Homo sapiens: one gene and its partners. The protein of the gene in region 1 interacts with the protein of each later gene in a biochemical or structural test. Each region holds a gene or a part of one and is shown in the gene's direction. Other genes may lie near its edges.

Region 1 (3,751 bases):
AGTTTGTGATCTGGCCCCAGGACATGCAGACTGCCTAGTAGGCAATTAATATCTGCTGAATTAATTCTTTGTATTGTAAGTCATATCAGGATTTCTTGGGGGTTAGCATTATCTTAAAACCACAAAAAACAATAACTTTAGACCTAATTGGTTTCATGACTTATTGAGGAGGCGAGGAATAGGTTAAAGCTGCTTTGCATACATTTTGGAATAGTCTCTTTTGTCTAGTAAGGATGGATAAGTTTGTTAATAACCAGTATTCACATGGGTAGAAAAAAAGTGTCTTGATTTTTAATCCTACAAGTAGTAAAGGAATGGTAGTCAGAAGTTGAATCGTACTTTTAATGCCTCAGGCAGGATAGAATAGTATTGTTTTGTTTTGTATCCCAATATGCCTAACTACTTCTCTCTCTCTCCTTTCTGTTTTGCTTCTCATCCTTTCACCCATTACAGTCTCAGTATGTGTGTTACACCAGGAGGTTGCCTTGGCAGGTCAGAGGATCTGTCACAGTGAAGGCACTGTGGTACCCTTTGTTTTTTAGGCAAGGATGACACATGCTAGTCAACTTATTTCCATTTGTTGTTCCCTCCACTTGGCACTAAATGAGACTTAACCATTTTTGAATCAAAGTTTATAAATTTCTTACAAAAATTAAGGTTTTTATTCTCTATAATAAGCACATGAGAAAGACTGGTTTTAAATTTTAAACTGTGGAGTGACGTAAAAACATGTTTAATTTTAATTATTTGCTTTCTTTTGTTCGTCTTGTAAGTTATTAATGTATTAATACTGGTAACTTCTAGATTGGAGGAATGATTTATCCTAATGTTTCTTTTTTAAAAAAAACTATCAGTCATTCATATGGCATATGCTAATCAAGGCTCTGCGGTATTTTTTTTCTTATGTTTTTTAATGAAGCAGCTCTTTTCATGATCTAGCAGTCTGTGTTACTATCAGTACGTAAACAGTAAGGACTCAAATTTTAAGATTAAAACAAGTTCATTTTGTTAACATCATGTTTTGTTGCATCTTGCAGCTTCTTGGTGAATTTTTGGATGAAGCCATTAAATTAATTGCTTGCCATCATGAGCAGAAGCAAGCGTGACAACAATTTTTATAGTGTAGAGATTGGAGATTCTACATTCACAGTCCTGAAACGATATCAGAATTTAAAACCTATAGGCTCAGGAGCTCAAGGAATAGTATGGTAAGTGTTTACTTCCAAAAATTAGGCAAAGAATCATTAACTGCTACCTTTTCTCCTCTCGTAATTTAGATACCTTGGCAAATATTTAACTTGCTTTGAAAAATTAAATTAAAACTAAAAATTAAACGAAAACTATTCCACAGTAAATTGTTTGCTTCAGGATCAATGGTCTTTTCTTTATTATTATTATTAAAGGTTGAGTATCCCTTATCTGAAATGCTTAGGACCAGAAGTGTCAGATTTTGGAATATTTGCATTGGTTGAGCATTCCAAATTCAAATCAGAAATACTTCAGTGAACATTTCCTTTGAGCATCATGTCAGTGCCCCCAAAATTTAGATTCTCGAGCATTTTAGATTTCATATTTTCAGATTTGGGATAATAACCTGTATTATTCATAAGATACAACTCTATAAACTAGCACTGCCATCTTTAAGTATAAACTATGATTAAATACTTGGGCATAGCCATTGAAGACAAATATCTCTATCAGCAAAGAATAAGTGGCATGCTTGTTAATTTCATGTATACATGTATTCCCATAGATAATTGTTTAATAAGAAGCTTCACTTAGTCATCACTTTCACACTATAATGAAGCGTGGAATTTCAGAAATCTTATTCTATACTGGGGAATGAAGTCAGCTAATATCTCACTGTGTGTGTTTCAAAATTCATCCATATGTTTAAAATTGATTTATTAGCTAATTTCTACAAAAGCCTCAGGCTATATCAGCATAATTCTTTATAAACTGAAATGCAGATCACTCTTTGGGATAGTTCTGATACTGATTGCAGATCACTAAATTAGCATAATAATAAACTAGTGTTTTGGGGAATTATAAGCCTCACTCAAGAATAATTATATTTTTATTACCTCTTCTTGAAACAAATTTCAGAATCTATTCTAAACAAAATGTAAACTGTTAAGTATTTATAATCCAGTATTTCTCCTAGGTTCTAAAAAAACTGTTTTACATGTGCACAGGGAGTCATGCATAGGATTGGTGTTTGCAGCACCATTTATAACAGCAAAAATTGGAAATAGCATCAAATCTATCAACAGAAGAATAAAAAATTGTGATACAGTCATGCTGTGAAATACTATATAACATTTTAAACGAACTGGAGCCATATGTGTCAACAAGGATAACCTCAGAAATGTAGTGCTGGGCTTCAAAGCAAGATGTAGAATATATATATACATCATTATACCATTTACATGTAGCTTAAAATATGCAAAGCAGTACCATATATTTATGGATTATATATATGTACAAAAGATTAAAACATGCATAAATACCAAACTTAGGATGTTGTTTATCTCTGAGAAAATAGAGAAAAGAAAGGAGGTTTGACCTATAATATTATATTTCTTTCTAAAAAATTCAGAGCAAGCCGGGCGCGGTGGCTCACGCCTATAATCCCCGCACTTTGGGAGGCCGAGGTGGGTGGATCATGAGGTCAGGAGTTCAAGACCAGCCTGGCCAACATGGTGAAACCCTGTCTGTACTCAAAATACAAAAATTAGCTGGGCATGGTGGCACATGCCTGTAATCCCAGCTACTTGGGAGGCGGAGGCAGGAGAATAGCTTGAACCCGGGAGGTGGAGGTTGTGGTGAGCTGAGATGGTGTCACTGCACTCCAGCCTGGGTGATAGAGTGAGACTCCGTCTAAAAAAAAAAAAAAAATCAGAGCAATTATGGTAACGTATTAAGATTTAATAAATTTGCATAATAGAATGGCATTTATTATCTTTCCTGCATTCTTGAAGTAATTTACAATATCAAAAATTATAGAAGTTGGAGTCATTTTGTAAGCCGTTTTGACTGGCCTGTTCTCATTGTAACCAACCACATTTAACCAACCATAAATTAAATTTAAAGAAAATCATATTATATAGTCAGTATTAGGATTCTGAAAGCCAGCTCTCTGTTCAGATTTTGTTTTTTGTTTTTTGTTTTTTTGTTTTTTTGTTTTTTTTTGAGACAGAGTCTCACTCTGTCGCCCAGGCTAGAGTGCAGTGGCGTGATCTTGGCTCACTGCAAGCTCCGCCTCCCGGGTTCACGCCATTCTCCCGCCTCAGCCTCCGGAGTAGCTGGGGCTACAGGTGCCTGCCACCACGCCCGGCTAATTTGTGTGTGTGTGTGTGTGTGTGTGTGTGTGTGTGTGTGTGTATTTTTAGTAGAGACAGGGTTTCACCATGTTAGCCGGGATGGTCTCGATCTCCTGATCTCGTGATCTACCCGCCTCGGCCTCCCAAAGTGCTGGGATTACAGGCGTGAGCCACTGCGCCTGGCCCTTCTGTATTTATTTTATTGTGTCCAAAAGGATAGAAGTAATGTGTTTACATAGAATTATTCAGCAAATCTTTTGAGTAGAATTTATATGCTTTTTTTTTTTTTGAGGGAGTCTACCAGGCTGGAGTGCGGTGGTGCGATCTTGGCTCACTGCAACTTCCGCCTCCCAGGTTCAAGTGATTCCCTTGCCTTAGCCTCTCAAGTAGCTGGGACTACAGGTGTGCACCATCACACCCAGCTAATT
Region 2 (3,751 bases), on another chromosome or scaffold:
AGATCAGCCGGCGGAGACTGCAGCAGGGCAAGATCACTGTCCTAGACTTGATTTCCTGTAGGGAAGGCAAGGACTCTTTCAAGAGGATCTTTTCCAAAGAAATTATAGTTTATGATGAGAATACCAATGAACCAAGCCGAGTGATGCCCTCCCAGCCACTTCACATAGTCCTCGAGTCCCTGAAGAGAGAAGGCAAAGAACCTCTGGTGTTGAAAGGTAATGCCCCTGCTCCCTTCCCAAGCACGGTCCTGATTAGCCGGGTTCACTTTGGGTTTTCTCGTAGAGTGACAGCATTCTCCTTACCCTGGCTACCAAAGACCAAAATAGACTTTATTCTTCTCTTCCCTTCTATGCTCTTTATTGTTTTGGTTTAGTAAGAAAAACCCAGCAGCACTGAACTGGAAGCCAGAAGATCTGGGTTCTACCCTTCATTTGGGTTCTAATTTGCATTGTGCAAGTCATTTCACCTCTCTGGGACTGTTTTCTCATCTTTCTAAAAAGGGGCTTTATACACACCAGATGGTATCTCAAGTCATGCCTGGTCTGCTAGCTCTATTCCAATCAATCACTAGTTGGAAAGTTATTGTCTCTCAGACTTAACCAATGTTGATGGAACAGAGGAAGGAGCAACTATGGTGAACTACAAGTAAACCTACAGGTACCAGTTCTTACTGTGGGAAATTCTTTCTCTTTCTCACCTTTCTGACCAGCTTGACTTTTATGTGGTTTATAAAGTGACCTTGAAGAAGGGCAGAGCTTCTTATTCTAAGGCCCCATATAAAGTATAAGTTCACCAATTACATCCATTCCTCTGCCAAGGCTCCAAGGGAACAGAGACGTTTTTATGAAACACTCCCCAACCCATTGTTTTTTCTGGCCTCACCTGACAACGGTTGGCATCATGGCTCCTCCCAAGATGGAGTAATGGGTCACTTGCCCCAGTATACTGAATGCAGAATAACTGAGATTAGCAGAACTGAGCTCTGGCAGAAGGAATTATTCACCACTCTTCTCGGAGCACCTTCCATACCGTGTTGCCTAACCTTTCCAAGTAGCCTGCATCCTGTGCCCAGCCTAGTTGCACCTCTTTGCCCTCAGATACTGACTTTTGGGGCACTGTACATCACTCTCATTCGGCATCTTTTACCTGGTGGTGGTAGTGAGAGATAGTCGTCTTCTCTCTTCTCTCCTCTTGTGTTCTGAGCCAAGGTACGCAGTTTCTGGGTCACATCTCCAACCAGTCTCCTAAAGTGTGTTGACCAAAGGTGTTGCTGAGTTTGAACACATTGCATATTTAAATTGCAATAGGACATGTGGGTGAGCAAGTTAGTTATTTTGTCTCTATGGGACAGCTTTGCCATTCTCCTTCTTGTCTTCCCAGTGGGGCATTCTGCCTTTTGTTAAGCAGTGTTCTGGGAATTATAGTTCTGAATTCCACTGACACAATCTCCTCTTCCCACCCTCCGCTCTCCTCAAACTTGCCCTCATGGGGCTACACTACCACAAAGGCACATCTCTCCTTAGGGCTGGTGGGCTTTGCTGGGAAGGAGAACATGAAAGAATTGTATGTAGAGAGTTCCAGAAGCTTCTAGACATTTCCTGGTCGTGGTGGTTGTGGTGGGTTTTCTTGAGGTCACAAATATGTTCAGATTTCCTCCATATAGCTCTGTATTTTATTGTTTCTGTATTCTTGTATGGTTGACTTTGAGTGATTCCCAGGATATTTACCCTGCTATTGTCTTACCATAATCTTGATGTGTCTAGCCTCTTACAAATGAGAAAATCCTACCGAGGAATTTCCCATTTGTAATAGTTTGTCTTGGGGAGCAAAGAGGAGGATAGCCAATGATCATGATGATCTCCTCTTTTCTCACGCAGAGCAGGTGTTCATGATAAAAAGCAAGTCTTTTGTGTCTTCATGATCTGAAGAGAGGAAACAACACGGATCAAGATGATCCTAGACCTCCTAATCATGGGGATGATTACAAGGAGTTGCAGACCCTACTCTCTATTTTGCAGTGGGTGGAGTTGTGGATAGGGGTGACCCATCAGTCATTGAGAAATGAATCTCCTGGGTGCTACTTGTGAAAGTGAGGATCCTCTCTCCCTTTCCTGTGGATGCAGCTGAGATTCTGGACAGCCTAGACTTCTTCCTCAGTGTCAGAGTAAGATTGCCTCAATGGGGCGGGGCAGGACACACTGCTGACCTCACCACTGGGCGCCCTGGGCAGCCACTGCGAGGCCTCGTCATTTTCGAGTTGGTGAGACACCGCGGCAGTCGACTTGGAAGATGCTCTGGTGGTAGAGGTTAGATTATTTGTAGTTTTGGGGGCCTTTTCTTCAAATATCTGGGAATTTCATTGAAAATATGTAGTTCAGGAGTGAAGGGGTCTATATTCTACTTTATAATTATCATTATCATTTTGGTATCTTTTGGGAGAATGGCCTAAAATTGGGACCAAGATGGAAAAGAAGGGAAAGGAATGGGTCAATATTAGAATGCCCTTCGTTATCCTTTCAACTTGGTAAACCAGAGATTAATACCATAGCACCACTGTGGTGAAAGACGGGGTGGGCATTCCCCAAAGGCATGACCAGCAGACTTCTCTCAGATTCTTGAGTGGGTCAAGCAGACCATTCTGGTCTGGCTTCTCCTCTCAGATTTATTTGAGTAATCCCCTCCCTTGGTGATAAGATTGTGTTTCAGCAAGAGTGGTAGTGGTACCATTTCGGAAGGAGTAATTTTTGCAGGGAAGTTGGTGGGAGGGGGGCATAGTTAGAACATAAGGAGGAAACTTCTAAAGGCTTGTTAGTTTATTTTCAGAGATTTCAGTACAATCTTGGGTAATTTATGGCTGGCCCATCTGATGCTCTGGTTTATGTTTGTAAACACTGGTTGCTACCCTCCCTGTCCAAGATCCTTGTCCCCCTGTCTCCATGCCATACTCTCCATTTTTGGTGCTGTCTGTCAAGTAGAGCGGCTGCTAACTTGCCATTTTAGTAATGCTGTGTCAGGTTGGGAAGAAACCGATCAGAGGCATGGCAGCCCCTGGGATTAAGTTACTGTTCTAATTTACAGTGCCCTCCCTGTTGTGACCTATGCTAGAATCTATGTTTTAGTCTCATCTTCTAAAGAATAAATGGCATCAGACCTGTGCTTCTCTTCAACCTGGTGAAAATGATCCAAATGAATAAATATTTAGGGATTTGTGAGGTCTTTGAAAGAATTATATTGTTTTACTCAAAGCTGATTTTTAATCAACTAAAACTTGCTTTCTAGTCAAACTGAGTAAGAAAGTTGAACAATTCTAGACCATCCATAACGAGAGCTACCGTTTTTGCTATAAAGTTTTTCAGGCTCCCTTTCTTTTCAGTAAAGCTGGGTCCAGGGAAATAATTTGTCATTTACTTAGGTAGGAAGAAATAGTCTACTGCCCCTTTTTCTTAAAGACAGTATATGCCTTCAAAAATGTTATTATAAACATTTTCAAGCATATAGAAAAGCAGAAAAGTGTGTAATGAACATCCATACACCTATCAACCAGATTAAACAATTATATTTTTCCTATTTGCTTTCTCTTTTCTGTTGAAATATTTAAAAATATAGATAATGTTTTAATGTATTTAAGTATGTTTAATGTGTAAATTAATGTTTCAAATTCAATAAAGCTGGAAATATTTTATAGTATACTATGAACATTTTCACTCGTAAACACTTGAGTGTCATGTACCCATTTTTAAGTGCTTTTCA
Region 3 (3,751 bases), on another chromosome or scaffold:
ATGCCTGTAGTCCCAGCTACTCGGGAGGCTGAGGCAGGAGAATGGCTTGAACACGGGGGGCGGAAGTAACAGTGAGCTGAGATGGTGCCACTGCACTCCAGCCTGGGCCACAGACTGAGACTCCATCTCAGGAAAAAAAAAAAAAGAAAAGAAAAGAAATGGAGATTTGGCAAAATTAAGTCACTTGGGATCCCAGGAAATTGGAATCTGAGGCTGAATGAAACCTCTTAGTGGGATGGTTGAACATGTATACGGCAAATTATGTTGCAAGTGGAAAATGTGAAAAACACAATAGAGCCTGGCATGGTGGCTCACACCTGTCATCTAAGCACTTTGGGAGGCCAAGGGGGAGGATCGCTTGAGGCCAGGAGTTCAAGACCAGCCAGAGTAACAGTGAGACCTCTGTCTCTACAAAAATGTTTTTAAAATTGGCCAAGCAGTGGTGGCTTACACCTGTAGACCCAACTACTTAGGAGGCTGAGGTGGGATCACTTGAGCCTAAGAGTTCAAGTGAGCCCTGATCATGCCAGTGCCTCCAGCCTGAGCAACAGGGTGAGACCCTGCCTCTAAAAACTGAACAACAAAAAAAATCAGTAGGGTGTCAGCTACGGGAGTTACTGTTTCGGTGCAATCAGATTAGGATGAGAGGATCTGAACTGATGAGCATTGCAGTAGGTGAAAGACGGTAAGTGGCCATTTCTATTAGCATTAAATAGTCACTGATGTGGTTTCATCAGGATTCACAATACATGTGTGGCTCCCAAATTGAGTTTCAAAGTCTTGGGTTCATGGTGTCCCCTGCCCAGCAAAATAAAGTGCAAATCTTACGGAGCAACACATTTTAAGTTCAGGCCTCAAGTACTTCCAGAGACAAAAGTCCTGGGGACACTGGCTCAGAATGGGGGAAAGGGGACCCTGGGCCAAGAGTCAACCAGGATGACATGCAGAATCAGACCTGCAAGGGCTGCAGATACTGTAGTTATGAGGCACACCCAACGCTTAAAGATAAATATGTGGTTGGAAGTATAAGAGCCTATTAAAACTGCTAGAATATAAGAAATCAAATAGGACAAAAACAGAATCATTGGCAGGGTGCAGTGGCTCACGCCTGTAATCCCAGCACTTTGGGACGCCGAGGGAGGCGGGTGGATCACTTGAGGTCAGCAGTTCAAGACCAGCCTGGCCAACATGGTGAAACCCCGTCTCTACTAAAAATACAAAAAAATGAGCCGGGCGTTAATAGCGCGTGTCTGTAGTCCCAGCTACTCAGGAGGCTGAGGCAGGAGAATCGCTTGGACCCAGGAGGCGAAGGTTGCAGTGAGCCGAGATCGCGCCATCACACTCCAGCCTGGGCGACAAGAGCGAAACACCGTCTCAAAAAAAAAAAAATCGGTGCAATTAATAACCCAGTGGATGGGTTAAACAGATTGCACGTAGCTGAAAAGTAACCGAAAATCTGGACTGGCGCGGTGGCTCACGCCTGTCATCCCAGCACTCTGGGAGGTCGAGGCGGGCGGATCACTTGAGATCAGAAATTTGAGACCAGCCTGGCCAACATGGCGAAACCCCGTCTCTACTAAAAATACAAAATTAGCTGGTCTGTAATCCCAGCTACTCCGGAGGCTGAGGGAGAAGAATCACTTGAACCCAGAAGGCGGAGCTTGCAGTGAGCCAGGATCGCGCCACCGCACTCCAGCCTGGGCGACAGAGCAAGACTCCATCTCAAAAAAAAAAAAAAAAAAGAAAATCTGAAGCAGTCAGTGCAGTAGGGAGAAGTGGGCGAAAGGAAGGAGGCCACGCTGCTGGGTTTCAGGATGAGATGGGCGTTGAGGGTGCATTCACAGAATCCCGGGAGGAGCCAGCTGAGCGGGGAAGGCATCAGGAGAGGGGAGGCACTGAGCGGGGCGCGGTGCTGTAGGGAACGGAGGCTCATCAGGGCGGCCGGGATTGAGGCGCAGGCGCTGAGCCTTCACCTAAGTCCGCCGAAGTGTGCAGAGCCTGGAGACGGGATCGAGGTCACCGGAAGCCCACGGTTGCGGGGACATGATCAAGCTACAGCGCGCTGGGGGAAGCGACCACTGCCGCCCCGCGGATCCCACCGGCCTGGCCGGGAGCTCCCTCTGCCCGGCTCACCCGCGCTTCCGGCCCGAAGCCCGGCTTCCTCTGACGTCACGGCCCCTGCGCCCCCTGGCGGCGCGGCTGCGGCGGGACGCGCGGGCACCGCCCCCTCCGGCTGGAGGGCGGGACTTCCGGTGAGTGAGTGACGGGCGCAGCCTCGGCAGCGGCGGCGGCGGAGCCCTGAGGCGACAGCAGCTGCGGGAGGCGACGGGCTGCGGCCTGCGGAACCTGAGGCAGCTGGGGAGGGCCGGGCGCGCCGGCCGGATAGCGAGCCGCGCTGGCGGCGGCGGTGGCCGCGATGATGGAGATCCAGATGGACGAGGGCGGCGGCGTGGTGGTGTACCAGGACGACTACTGCTCCGGCTCGGTGATGTCGGAGCGGGTGTCGGGCCTGGCGGGCTCCATCTACCGCGAGTTCGAGCGCCTCATCCACTGCTACGACGAGGAGGTGGTCAAGGAGCTCATGCCGCTGGTGGTGAACGTGCTGGAGAACCTAGACTCGGTGCTCAGCGAGAACCAGGAGCACGAGGTGGAGCTGGAGCTGCTGCGCGAGGACAACGAGCAGCTGCTCACCCAGTACGAGCGTGAGAAGGCGCTGCGCAGGCAGGCGGAGGAGGTGCGTGGGCCGCGGGACCCGCCCGCATCCCCGTCCCGGACCCCCAGCCAGCCCCGGGCCCCGGACCCAACACCCGTCCCGACCCCAGACCCCGCTCCGGCACCCCGGACCGCGGGACCCCTGGACCCCCAGACCCCGCCCCGAGACCCGCCTGGACCCCATATCCCCCGCCCCGGGACTTCCCCACCCCCTCTGCCCGCCGTGAGACACCTCCCTAGAGCACTCCCCCGCCTGCCCCGGGACCCCACCCCGACTCCCGGGGACCCCCTTTTCCGCCCAGGCCTGGGCCCTGGCCCCCTCCTCCGTGCCCCCAGCCCTGAATCTTCAGCCCCAAACCCGATGTGCCTGGCGTCATCCCCGGGGAGCTCAGCTTCAAAGCCAGGCCTCACTCTCCCCTCCCCACCCACCTCTGCATGACAATTGCCTTTGCTTTCGTGCGTGTGTTCAGTCAAAACCGTTTCCCGACCCCAAGTGCTACCTCTGTTGGCTGCCATTCTAAACCCATCTAGAAAAGGAATCTTTTGGTGTTCTTAGGGGGCTGCAGCCGTCTGTGGATGATGTTGGAGACCTTTCCCTTGTCCCTAATCCCGTATTTTGAAGGTCTGTGACACGGGTGAATTGGGTGGTTGATGTAAACACAGAACAAGGCCGCAGGCGGGCTGCTCCTCTGTCAGCAGAAGGAACACTCGAGTTTCTGGAGGTGATGTCTTTGCCCCCTTGGTTCCTTGCTTGGCGAGATTGTTAGCTGATGTAGCCAGGGCTGAGAAACTCCACTCTGGCTTCTGAGGAGTTAACAGTCTGAGTTTGAAGCGTTTAATTCTGTGCTAGGATGTCTCCATAACCTGGAAATCGCTTGTCTGTGAAGCAGTTACAAGAGCCGGGCCCTGTGGGGAGCACCACTTAGCTTCATTCATTCACCGTCAGATACTGAGCTCGGCCTGCCTGTGTGTGGGCCCAGAACCTCGCCCTTTGTCAGAAACAGGTTCAGGGAGGCTGGTTCCCATCCCTGCTTTGCCT

What was found.
Region 2: the proteins of MAPK8 (region 1) and DUSP10 form a complex in vitro, tested with the Homo sapiens proteins (2 studies listed by BioGRID, with this or other methods).
Region 3: the proteins of MAPK8 (region 1) and MAPK8IP3 form a complex in vitro, tested with the Homo sapiens proteins (3 studies listed by BioGRID, with this or other methods).

What each region holds. Positions count from the first base shown.
Region 1 is NC_000010.11:48,400,575-48,404,325, forward strand, and holds part of MAPK8 (mitogen-activated protein kinase 8), read left to right. Parts: intron 1-1,037; 5' UTR 1,038-1,086; coding exon 1,087-1,208; intron 1,209-3,751. UniProt on the Homo sapiens protein: Serine/threonine-protein kinase involved in various processes such as cell proliferation, differentiation, migration, transformation and programmed cell death.
Region 2 is NC_000001.11:221,735,399-221,739,149, reverse strand, and holds part of DUSP10 (dual specificity protein phosphatase 10), read left to right. Parts: coding exon 1-216; intron 217-1,883; coding exon of another isoform or gene 1,884-1,927; exon of another isoform or gene 1,928-2,019; coding exon of another isoform or gene 2,020-2,066; exon of another isoform or gene 2,067-3,715; intron 3,716-3,751. UniProt on the Homo sapiens protein: Protein phosphatase involved in the inactivation of MAP kinases. Has a specificity for the MAPK11/MAPK12/MAPK13/MAPK14 subfamily. It preferably dephosphorylates p38.
Region 3 is NC_000016.10:1,703,924-1,707,674, forward strand, and holds the start of MAPK8IP3 (C-Jun-amino-terminal kinase-interacting protein 3), read left to right. Parts: upstream 1-2,271; 5' UTR 2,272-2,416; coding exon 2,417-2,734; intron 2,735-3,751.